3 separate regions of the Homo sapiens genome follow, and all the other regions are reported to be linked to region 1. Evidence: microRNA targets listed by miRTarBase, many of them from high-throughput screens and not tested one by one. Region 1 holds a microRNA gene; each other region holds the end of a gene's coding sequence.

What was found. Region 1 holds the annotated microRNA hsa-miR-3686 (AUCUGUAAGAGAAAGUAAAUGA, at 2,000-2,021, opposite strand). A microRNA usually pairs through its seed, bases 2 to 8, with sites in the 3' UTR of a target mRNA and lowers its output. Matches are read on the target gene's strand: a 7mer-m8 pairs with bases 2 to 8, a 7mer-A1 pairs with bases 2 to 7 and ends in A, and an 8mer does both.
Region 2: miRTarBase lists PLBD2 as a target of hsa-miR-3686. Seed matches in the 3' UTR shown: 7mer-m8 at 1,706-1,712.
Region 3: the mRNA of TNRC18 is a reported target of hsa-miR-3686. Seed matches in the 3' UTR shown: 7mer-A1 at 2,811-2,817.

What each region holds. Positions count from the first base shown.
Region 1 is chr8:129,482,068-129,486,219 of GRCh38, forward strand. MIR3686 (microRNA 3686) reads right to left here and starts at 2,075; the gene lies at 1,990-2,075. The region is part of intron 1 of CCDC26 (CCDC26 long non-coding RNA); the gene reads right to left.
Region 2 is chr12:113,388,273-113,392,272 of GRCh38, forward strand. PLBD2 (phospholipase B domain containing 2) reads left to right here. Exons shown (of 12, transcript NM_173542.4): 12 at 187-3,357. The coding sequence ends at 354. Among named protein-coding and RNA genes, the nearest start is that of SDS, 14 kb to the right of the region's middle.
Region 3 is chr7:5,304,635-5,308,634 of GRCh38, forward strand. TNRC18 (trinucleotide repeat containing 18) reads right to left here. Exons shown (of 30, transcript NM_001080495.3): 30 at 2,177-3,678. The coding sequence ends at 3,472. It overlaps SLC29A4 (solute carrier family 29 member 4), which reads left to right. Exons shown (of 11, transcript NM_153247.4): 11 at 1-2,278. Among named protein-coding and RNA genes, the nearest start is that of SLC29A4, 24 kb to the left of the region's middle.

The sequences.
Region 1 (4,152 bases):
AAACTAAGTGAATGTGATGCAGTAGTCTATTACATTGTCACTACCTGGCAAGCCCAGTCTCTTCTGAAGAAAGCTGATCATATTATCCACAACACTGAACAAAACCCAGTGCCCCAAGAATAGGAACTTGACCCATAAACTGTCACCTAAGGTGGCTTCTGGCTTCTGAGTTCTCTTGGTACAAAGCACTTGCACACAAGAAATAATAGTGGTTTACTGAGTCTATATAAATATCTTTTTATTTGTTTCTTTTTTTTTCCAACTTTTATTTTAGACTCAGGGGGCATGTTTACAGGTTTGTTATCTGGGTATATTGCATGCTGAGGTTTGGGGTATGAATAATCCCATCACCCAGGTACTGGGCATCATACTCAATAGTTAGTTTTTCAATCCTTGTTCCCCACCCTCTCACCTCTAGTAGTCCCCAGTGCCTACTGTTGCCATCTCTATGTCCATGAGCACGCAATGTTTTACTCCCACTTATAAGTGAGAATATATGGTATTTTGTTTTCTGTTTCTCCATTAACTTGCTTAGGAGAATGGCCTCCAGCTGCACCCATGTGGCTGTAAAGGATATGATTTTGCTCTTTTTTATAGCTGCATAGTATTCCATGGTGTATATGTACCATATTCTCAAGAAATTCTTTTTAAAGGGAGATTGGATGTGAAAAAAAAATTTAAAAATCCAGAGCTCAAGCTATCTGCCTGCCTTGGCCTCCCAAAGTGCCAGGATTACAGATGTAAGCCACTGTGCCTGACCTATATCCACTATCGTGATTGCAGATGTATATTATGTCCAAACATTTAAAATTATACACTTTAACTATGTGTAGTTTCTTGCATGTAAGTTATAGCTCAATATAGTTGTTAAAACAGTTTAAAATAGCTTTAAAAAACTGTCATAGCTTGATTCAATGAATCTTTTTATATTAAAAAAAAAAGAAATACATAAAAGACCAGTTGGCCACAAGACAGTTGGCCACAAGAGGGTAGAGAATAGACATAAGGGGCAAAGAAGAAGAGGAAGAGGAAGAAGAGGAAGAGGAAGAGGAAGAAGAAGAAGAAGGAGGAGAGGAGGGAAGGGGGAAGGGGGAAGGAGGAAGGGAGAAGGGGGAAAGGGGAAGGGGGGAAGGAGGAAGGGAGAAGGGGGAAGGGGGAAGGAGGAAGAGGGAAGGAGGAAGGGAGAAGGGGAGCATTTATAGAAGCATGGGCAATAGTTGCAGAAAGAGAAAGAACTCTGGTCAGATCATCAAAATGCCAGAGAAGAGAATTGAACTCCAAAGTCTGTGCTCTTGATCTCTACAATAAGGGCCACAGATCCTCATGCCTCTGGGGCCAGTCGAGTAATAGAAATGAGAGGTGGGTGCCTGAGGAAGCCTATGTGAAAGTGGAGCGTGCACAGCCTTTCAAAAGGGGGAAGCCACTAGTGTATTTTGATAAATGGTACTCTGTGGGAACATGAGCCAAATTTATCAGGTCTTCTGACTTTTCAAGAGAAGACAGGAATTCAGATATCCATGGGAAAAGTCCAGTGTTTTAATGTTTAAAACTAATTTGGTCTTTTTTAATCACTGTGCAGGCAAAAATACATACACACACACACACACACACACATCATTTTTGGGTTAGATTTAGTCTACAGACCTTCAGTTTGAGAATACTGCCTTATACTATCAGCCATAAGACAAGGGAGATGTTTGGTGCAATGTCCAAACTGCCTTCTCTGACCACATATGCAAACAAGAAAGGAGAAGATGTGCTATCAGCCCAATGAGAAAATATCTCAGAGTTCCAGTTGAACTCTGAGAGAAGAATCCACAGAAGATGTTTCATCAAATGGCCCAAGCCATTTCATAAATCCAAAAGGAGAGCATATGTGTGTTTCTGGTCAAGATACAGTAATAGAGACTAGATTTACCTTCCCCTTGAAACAACTAAAAAGCCAGCATTTAAAACACATGAAACATTTTTGAGACATTGAACCTAAGTCTCACCTCTTTCATTTACTTTCTCTTACAGATCACTGTCCAGTGCAGAAAAGTGATCTGTAAGAGAAGGTAAATGAATGAGGTGAGCCCTCTGACTGCCCCAGCTGACCGCACAGACAGTTTCCAGGCCACAGCACAGGGAGAGGAATCCCCATGGAGCTGGGTGGTCCCACTGAGTTGAGATGATGGATCTGAGAATGCAGGAAACCAAAATGGCTGAAGTTTGAAGAACAGAGCACTACCACAAAGAGAGCTACCTAACAGAGGCACCAGAGATTCTACAGAGTCCTCCTTGAGTCTTTAGCTGTGCACTAATCAGCACATGCGTGCAGAGACTTTATGAGATGAGGGTGGGGGGAAGCACCAACAAGGATTAGAGAAAACATTCCCTGCCACGACACTGGCACCAGGAATAATTCTTTTTTCCAGTAACCTAAGTGGAAAACCTCATACTTCACGGAGTATTGGGTAAAATGTTCAGAATAGTTTTGCTACGTAATGAAAAATAGATAAATTGTCACTCTATCTTGCCTTTAAAAGCTTAAAAGCAAAATTCGAAAGTATCAGACAATAACAATTGTATACCACTGTGAAACCATCACCACAATCAAGATTACGGGGAAAATCATCAATCCAAAAGGTTCCTCCCACCTTCCTCCTCTCCTTCCCATTTTTGGACTCTCCCCCTGCCCTTCCCTTTTCCCCAGGAAAACAATGATCTGGTTTATCCTCATTATGTAAAGTAGTTTGCATTTTTCAGAACTTTGTTGAAAGGGAATTAAACAGTATGTGCTCTTTTGTTATCTGCTTCTTTCACTCAGCCTGGGGGTTTTCAGATTTATCTATGCTGTTGCCCATGCCCATTGTTCACCCCCTTTTATTGTTCTCTAGTACTGCAGAGAATGAGAGAGTATTTCCATGGCTTAGCAGGTTTGTCCTCTGAGTGTGCGGGTCTGTAAGGAGAGCAGTGACTCTCCAAAGGGAAGGAGCATTCTACTTCCTCAAAGCTGAAAGTCAGAGATATAACATGTGCAGAAAGCCAGGAGGGCACAGGAGGAGTACAAAGCCAGTCGTGGCTATCCAGAAACAAATGCCAAAGGCTGAAGCAGCCTTCCAAGGACCAGGAGGGAAGAATTTGGAACAAATGTTTACCACTGTGTGTAGGGGTTGACCAAGAAGCAAGAATAAGGAAATTTGTTTTTGACCTTTGGAAAATGAAATTTAGAGTTTGTTTGGAACACTCCAGGTAAATAATAGTTACTCAATCTCTGACCCAGTTGCAAGAAAATTTCACCTGCTGTCTCTGACTGTATTTTATATATATATGTAATATATTACATATGTATATATTATTATATATTATATATTTATGTATAACATAATATAAATGTATATATCATATATGTAGTATATACATATATAGTATGTATACATTTATCATATATGATACATATGTATATGTATATATACACACATATGTATATACATGTATATGTACATATACATATGTATTATATATAATACTATACATATTATATACATAATATAGTATACATTATATGTGTATTATTATATATTATCTATAATATATGTAATGCTAAATGTAATATATCATAGATTATGTTATATATATCATGTAAATATTATATGTTATATATTATATATTGATACTATATATCAATATATGGTGTATAAATATAATATATACCATGTATTATATATATAATGTATAGTACTATACATATAACATAACTGGAGAACTGGTTAAGAATGATTCTGAGTTTGCACAGAGATTGAAAGAATAGTGTTTTAGCAGTGGCTGTCATAGGCAGGAGATAAGAGAATGAACAGCACAGATGTTCCATTGTTGCCGTTCCTGCTCAAAGGTTTCTCCAGTTGGAGACATGAATTCATTATTTCCTTTCAGAAAAAGACCTCTCTTTGATACTCTTCTCCTTTTTTTTTGTATTTTTAGTAGAGACGGGGTTTCACCATGTTAGCCAGGATGGTCTTGATCTCCTGCCCTTGTGATCCGCCTGCCTCGGGCTCCCAAAGTGGATACTCTTCTCCTTAATCCCTCACTCATTCCAGGAGGCACAGAGCTTCCTCTAACTAACAATAAGGCAACTGGATGTGGAGCTTCTCAGTGTGATTGAGGCTCCCT
Region 2 (4,000 bases), not on the chromosome of region 1:
CAGAGGTTGCAGTGAGCCAAGATCACGTCACTGCACTCCAACCTGGGTGACAGAGCAGAGACTCAAAAAAAAAAAAAGTGACAGTTCAGAATTGGGCTCTGGGGTCAAGGTCAGGGTGGGAGGCTGGGTGCCTGGATTGGGGCAGGCCAGGACCCCTGCTCAGCTGCGGCTCTGCCCTGTCCCCAGGTGACCAGCATGTCACTGGCCAGGATCCTGAGCCTGCTGGCGGCCAGCGGTCCCACGTGGGACCAGGTGCCCCCGTTCCAGTGGAGCACCTCGCCCTTCAGCGGCCTGCTGCACATGGGCCAGCCAGACCTCTGGAAGTTCGCGCCTGTCAAGGTTTCATGGGACTGAAGTTCTGTCCCTGCTCTGCTGCTTTCGCCCCTGCTGACCCTCGTCAGGGTCACCCCCGTCCCAAGGCCACCGGACTTCTAACTCCAGCCCCTCCTGGGGGCTTCGTTCTCTGATCTGGGGTCTGAGTCATCTCCTCCTAGAGTGGGTCACGAACCTGATGGGGCTCAGAACTGACCCCCTCTCTCCCCCGAGGTGGGTGGGCACCGTGGCGTCTCTTCTGCCCTGCCCTAAATCTCCCACTCTCTGTTTCTGTCTGTTTCCTACTGCTGCTCTCTCAACCTCATTCCCACCTCTGGGGCCCCTTCCTCGTGCTTCTCCTTCCTGAGGGTTTGGGAAGGTCCTGGGGCAGACTCTGGGGCTCCCATGGGGTGGAAGGAGCCTGTTCCAGCACCCTTCTCCCAGCTGCATTCCCACGGGTGGCCCTGGAGCTGGTGAGCTTTGTCTGGGCGTTGTCTTCGGCTGGCATTGCTCCTCCCAGCTCTGGCCCCTCTGCTCCCTCAGGAAGCAGTCCCCTCGTCTCCCTTTCTGGGCAGCTTCCTTGAGGACAGAAACTTGAAAACAAACACAAACCAAAGTTTCTGGCCATCTGTGGCTGGAGGGTTCTGAATGTCCTCTCTCCATGTCAGGCAGAGGGTCAGCCCCCATGCTTCTGCCTCAGGCCCCACCCCACCCCACCCCAGGCCTGCCCCTCACCTCAGGGCCATACCCACAGCGCCCTGATGGAGGAACCAGACCGCAGGCTGTGCCACCATTAAACAAGAGCGGCTGTGGCCCCATGCTGTGCTTCTTGGGGTGGCAGGGAAGGTGGGGTCAGCGCTTTTTCTCCTCTCAGGTTTGGGTTCTGCGCCATCCCCCATGCAGCCTCCTGTGCAGCCCTCTGTCTGTCCTTCTGTCCATTCATTCATCTGCCAACATACTCACCCATCATCCATCTGCACAGCCTTCCACCCACCCATCCGTCTTCCATCATCCATCCATCCATCTACCTATCCATTTATCATCCATCCACTCACCCATCCAACCACCCATCCAACCATTCAGCCATCTCCATCTGTCCATTTTCTTTCTTCTTCTTTTTTTTTTGTTTTTGTTTTTTCTGAGTGGGAGTTTCACTCTATTGCCCAGGCTGGAGTGCAATGGCATAATCTCTGCTCACTGCAACCTCTGCTTCCTGGGTTCAAGCGATTCTCCTGCCTTAGCTTCCCAAGTAGCTGGGGTTACAGGCATGAGCCACCATGCCTGGCTAATTTTGTATTTTTAGTAGAGACAGGGTTTCACCATGTTGGCCAGGCTGGTCTCGAACTCCTGGCCTCAAGTGATCCGCCCGTCTTGGCCTCCCAAAGTGCTTGGATTACAGATGTGAGCCCCCGCACCTGGCCTCATTTGTCCATTTTCCATCCACTTACCCACCCACCCATTTACTCATCCAGCCATTGACTCATCCATCCACCTATGAGATCAGACAGGGAGGGATCCTTTTTTGTATTGGTCTGTATACCACAGCATGGCTTACGAAGTTCTTATCTATCTATCACCCATCCACCCACCCATTTATCTACCCACCCATTCATCCACCCACCCATCCAACTACCTATCCATTCATCCATCCACCCATCTGCCAACGCATCCATCCATCCACCCACCCAATCATCTACCCACTCACCTATCCACCCATCCACCTACCTATTTGTCACCCATCCACCCATCCATCCATCCAATCACCCATCCAACCATCAATCCAACCATTTTCATCTGTTCATTTTCCATCCATCTACCCGTCCACCCATTCACTCCTCCATCCACCTACCTATCCATTTATCACCCATTTACCCATCCATCCATCCATCCTTCCAACCATTTATCCACCCATCCAAACATTTCCATCTGTTTTTCCATCCATCTACCCATCCACCCATTCACTCATCCATCCACCTTCCTATCCATTTATCATCCATCTACCCACTCACCCATCCATCCAACCTTCCAACCATTTATCCACCCATCCAACTATTTCCATCTGTTCATTTTCCACCCATTTACCCATCTACTAATTCACTCATCCATCCACCTACCTATCCATTTATCATCCATCTACCCACTCACCCATCCATCCATCCTTCCAACCATTTATCCACCCATCCAACCATTTCCATCTGTTCATTTCCATCCATCTACCCATCTACCCATTCACTCATCCGTCCACCTATCCATTTATCACCCATCTACCCATCCATCCACCCACTCATCCATCCATTCATCCATCCACCCACCCACCCGTCCATCCACCTACCTATTCATTTATCACCCATCCATCCACACACGGGTCTGTGCAGATTCATTAATATCCACCCATGCATCCATATTTATCTATTTTCTATCCATCAGCCATCCATTCATTCATATCCATCCATCCATCTATCCATCCAGATGTTTATTGAGCACCTGTGTTCTGGGTCCTATTTGGGAGCCTTGTTAACCACCAAGACCTTCCTAAGCCATATTGTGGTATACAGACAGATACAAAAAAAAAGGCTCTCTCCCTGTCTGATCTCATGCAGCCTGCCTTGGAGACAAGACTCTCCCAGTGCTGTGTGCTTGGAGAGAGGAAAGCACACAGCCCTGGAGTCAGAGACCTGGGTTTCAATTCTGTCTCCACCTCTTATTAGCTAGCTATGGACTCCTCTCTGAGCCTCGATTACCTCATCTGTGAAATGGGGTAATGGTGTGAGCAGCGTTTCCCTGGGGGATGTGATGCAGCCCACTTGGGGCCTCATGCACTCAGCATCTCTTTATTAGCAAACACTTATTGAACCCCTAGTACATGCCAGGCACTGTTATGAGGTCCCGGGGATACTTTATAACAAAAGGGACAGAAGCATTCCTGCTCTTGTGAAGTTTACATTGACTAGATAGTAAACAAAATAAATGAAATATGCAGTGTGTCAGTGCTGGTAAACCCGTGGAGAAAATAAAGCAAGGTTGGGGTCTGGGGTTGGGAATTGACTTGTGGTTTTATCTTATTTTCCTTTTTATTTATTTATTTATTTTTTGAGACGGAGTCTCACTCTGTCGCCAGACTGGAGTGTAATGGCACAATCCCGGCTCACTGCAACCTCTGCCTCCTGGGTTCAAGTTATTTTTCCTTTTTGTAGAGACAGAGTCTCACTGTGCCAACCAGCCTGGTCTTGAACTCCTGGGCTCAAGCGATCCTCCCACAGGCGTGAGCCACTGCGCCCAGCCCTGAGTGACTCTTAAACTTCAGTTTGAACTTGGGGTCATCCAGAAAGTACCCTGAGGGTGGGGTTCCCTCCATGCTCTGGAGCCAGCCCCAGTAATTCCTCTTTGATCTATGATACGGGCTTCAGCATATGCTTTTGTTGGAAGAGAGGGCTCCATGTTTGAGGAGGGTTTGCATGACATTGACTTCAAGTCCACCCACCCTTTCCCTCTCCCAGAGATGGGTGTCCAGTGTCAGCTCACACACGCCCAGGGGAGGGGGCCTCACTTCTTTGCTTCCATTGGGTCTGTGATGAAATAATTCTGACTTAGTAGGAAGGACTTCATATCAGAATGAAGTTGGCCTCCCCAGCTGCTTCTGCCTTCAGCGGAGGCAGCCTTTGTCCCACCCCAAGTCCCTCTTGTTTAG
Region 3 (4,000 bases), not on the chromosome of region 1:
AAGTAGCTGGGATTACAGGTACGCACCACCACACCTGGCTAATTTGTCTTGTGGAGACCGGGTTTCACCATGTTGGCCATGCTGGTCTCGAACTCCTGATCTCAAGTGATCCATCTGTCTCATCCTCCCAAAGTGTTGGGATTACAGGTGTGAGCCACTGCACCCGTCCTGTGCCTCATTTTTGTTTTTTCTTTCTTTACAAGACAGGCTCTCGCTCTGTCACTGAGGCTGGAGTGCAGTGGTGCCATCATAGCTCACTGCAGCCTCCACCTCCTGGGCTCCAGTGATCCTCCCACCTCAGCCTCCCAAATAGCTGTGAATACAGGCGCGTGCCACCACGTCTGGCCAGATTCTTTTATTTTGTGTAGAGATGGGGTCTTGCTGTTGCCCAGACTGGTCTCAAAGTCTGGGCCTCAAGTGTTCCCCCTGCCTTGGCCTCCCAAAGTGCCAGGATTACAGGTATGAGTCACTGCGCCTGGCCTGTTCTGTCCTTAGCTTCCCCAAGGAATGGGGCTGGTCCAGGTTTTGATGTGGGTCCCGTAAAGGAGGGCACGAGGGCCACCTATGCTCTGGCAGGCATCCTCCCTGGGGCCCAGGTGGGCGGCCACTTGGGCCAAGACTGCGCCAGGTGACACCAGAGTGTTTCCCAGAGCCCATGCCGGGCCCTTCCCTTGCCCGAGGCCGGCTGGCTGCCCTCCATGGGTTACCCTCTTTGCAAAGCCCCGAATGTCCTCTGCAGGCCACCCACACTAACCAGGTCAGTCACTGGGCAGCCAGACCCCCACCTATAGCTTCCCTAGGCCCCAGTGCAGAGATGCCGTCCACCCCCATCTAGGTGAGGGCTTGGGGCCACTCTTAGCATTAGTATCATTTTCTTCTAGTATCATTTTGTGGTAGGCATGGCTGGAAATGTGCAGCTTTGCTTTTTTTTTTTTTTTTTTTGGAGGAGTTTCGCTTTTGTTGCCCAGGCTGGAGTGCAATGGCTCGATTTCAGCTCACTGCAACCTCTGCCTGCCGGGTTCAAGCGATTCTCCTGCCTCAGCCTCCCGAGTAGCTGGGATTACAGGCATGTGCCACCATGCCCGGCTAATTTTGTGCTTTTAGTAGAGACGAGGTTTCTCCATGTTGGTCAGGCTGGTCTTGAACTCCCGACCTCAGGTGATCCACCTGCCTCAGCCTCCCAAAGTGCTGGGATTACAGGCATGAGCCACCATGCCTGGCACTGGTTTTTTGAGATGGAATCTCGTTATGTCACCCCAGCTGGAGGGCAGTGGCACGATCTCAGCTCACTGTAACCTTTGCCGTGGGTTCAAGCGATTCTCCTGCCTCAGCCTCCCAAGTAGCTGGGATTACAGGCACGCTCCACCACACCCGGCTAATTTTTTTGTATTTTTAGTAGAGATGGGGTTTCACCATATTGGCCAGGCTGGTCTTGAACTCCTGACCTCAAGTGATCCGCCTCCCTTGGCCTCCCAAAGTGCTGGGATTACAGGCGTGAGCCACCGTGCCCATCCAACTTAACTTTTAATTTTTTCTCATGTAAATTTGTTCAATTTCTTTTTTTTTTTTTTTTTTTTTTTTTGAGACAATCTCTGTCACCCCCAGGCCAGAGTGCAGTGGTGCGATCTCAACTCACTGCAACCTCCACCCGCCGGGTCCCTGTGATTTTCCCACCTCAGCCTCCCGAGTAGCTGGGATTACAGGTGTGGGCCACCACACCCGGCTAATTTTTGTATTTTTAGTAGAGACGGGGTTTCACCACATTGCTCAGGCTGGTCTGAAACTCCTGGCCTGAAGTGATCCTCCCGCCTCGGCCTCCTAAAGTGCTGGGATTACAGGCACGCTCTACCACACCTGGCTAATTTTTTTTTGTATTTTTAGTAGAGATGGGGTTTCACCATATTGGCCAGGCTGGTCTCGAACTCCTGACTTCAAGTGATCCGCCTGCCTTGGCCTCCCAAAGTGCTGGCATTACAGGCGTGAGCCACTGTGCCCAGCCGATGAGCTCATTTAGATGGCTGCATGGGGTCACCGCCCCTGCACGCGTGGCACCCAACTTCTTCCAGTCGAATCCTGCTTCTTGGTGCCCTGATATGGCAGAATGCCCCCAGACACCACCCCTACTCCAGCCCCTGAAATAAACCACTCCAGACAATTTTATTTTTCCAATTAAATCTTTTCTTTTTTTTTATGAAAAAAGATCACACAGAATTTGCCAACAAACAAAATTCCAAAAGAAACATAAAAAAAAAAACCAATAATTCCCCCAAAAAACAAACCCAAAGTCTGGCTTTTCCTTCCCTCAAGATTGTCTGGTTGAGGCCTTGGTTTCCCTTGAAGGCTTGGGGCCTGGTTAAGTGCTTTCTGGGGCCCAAGCAGGGACCCTGGGCTTGGGCCGGCTCCTGCCTCTCCCTCTTCTCTCCCTAACAAACACTTCTCTATCCTGGGGGGTGAGTACAGTACACTTGGTGGGGTGGGCGGGGGGTGTGCTGGGGACTGGGAGGCCGGTGAAGCCGGTGCTAGACACTATAATCTAACAGGAAATAAAAAATAATATTCTGCACGTCAGAATGTTTTTTTTTATAATTTCATAGCTATTTTTCACAGTTTTAAAAAGTTTATATATATATTTATATATATTTATCTTTATATATATAATTAAAAAGTTGACTCCATTTAAAGGCTTATGATACAGGGGCGGGGCGAGTCTCTTGGTACAATAAAACTGTACAGGTTAAGAAGTGCCACCTCCCTCCTGGGTGGGGAGGGGCCAGGCGTGGCCGGGCGACAGTTTCAGCACCATTGGGGTTTTCTGTAGTGTGAGGGTTTGGACCAGGGTGGGCCTGTGCCGGGCCCTCTCCACCTGGTGCCTTTGACAGACACTCCGGGCTGCAACCCCACCCGGCTCTGTTCCCCAAGTCTAGGCCATCCTGAGAGGGTGGGGGCAGGGCCCCTGGCACAGTCAGGTAGGCCAGCTGGCATCGGGCTGCCCTGTCCCATGCACGGTGGGAGGCCTTGGGGTGGGCTCCATGCTAAGGGTGCTTGGGAAGCCCAGAGTGAGCGTCAGTTTGGTTCCTTAGAAGCGCCCCTCCCCACCGAATCCCCAGTCTGCATGGACCTGGGGGCACCCGGGCCCCCACGCAGCAGCAGCCTGGAGGGCCGGCCTGGCCAAGTGCTTGCAACGTGCTGGGCAGGAAGGGCCGGTCCGGCCATACCCTGATAGCTAAGAGGGGCCCCTGTCCTGGGGGCACTGAGGGGTTGGAAGGTGGGGCTGGAGGCATGTGCACATGCGTGCACACACGTGCATGCACACACACTCACCCGGGCATCCACGTGCACACCTGGCCCCATGCACACGCCTGCAGGAGCGCTCGCATGCACACAACGCACGTGGTCTCCGCGCCATGGCAGTGATGGAGATGGGTCCCTGGCCGCCCTCGGGGCACAGGTGGCCCGCAGGGCCCGGCGGGCTCAGCAGAGCACGGGCACGCCGTCCGTGGAGAAGATCATGCCCGTGGTGGGCTCGTAGGTGCCCGCGAGGTAGTACAGGCCCTCGCTGTCCTGGTACTTCTTGGTCTTCAGCATCTGCTCATACTGCTCCAGGCCCACCACCAGGCACTTGTGCGACACCGTCTGCACGTCATTTTCGTCCACATGCGAGGACTGGTATAGCGCGCGCTGCGGGCACGCGGGGATATCAGGATGGCAGGTGGGGGGCACAGAGGCCGAGGGAGCCCCAGGGAGCCACAGGGACAGAGACAGAAGCAGAGGGAGCCCCAGGGACTGAGACAGAGACCAAGTCAGAGACAGAGGCTGAGTAAGAGACAGACCAACAAAAGAGAGACAGAGACCGAGAGATGGAGAGCAAATGAGAGACAAGGATAGACAGACCAAGAGATCCAAAGACGCAGAGAGACAGAGACCGAGATCGAGAGAGACCCAGAGAGACACAGAGACTGAAAGATAGAGGTTGGGAGAGACCCAGAGAGAGTCAGAGGGC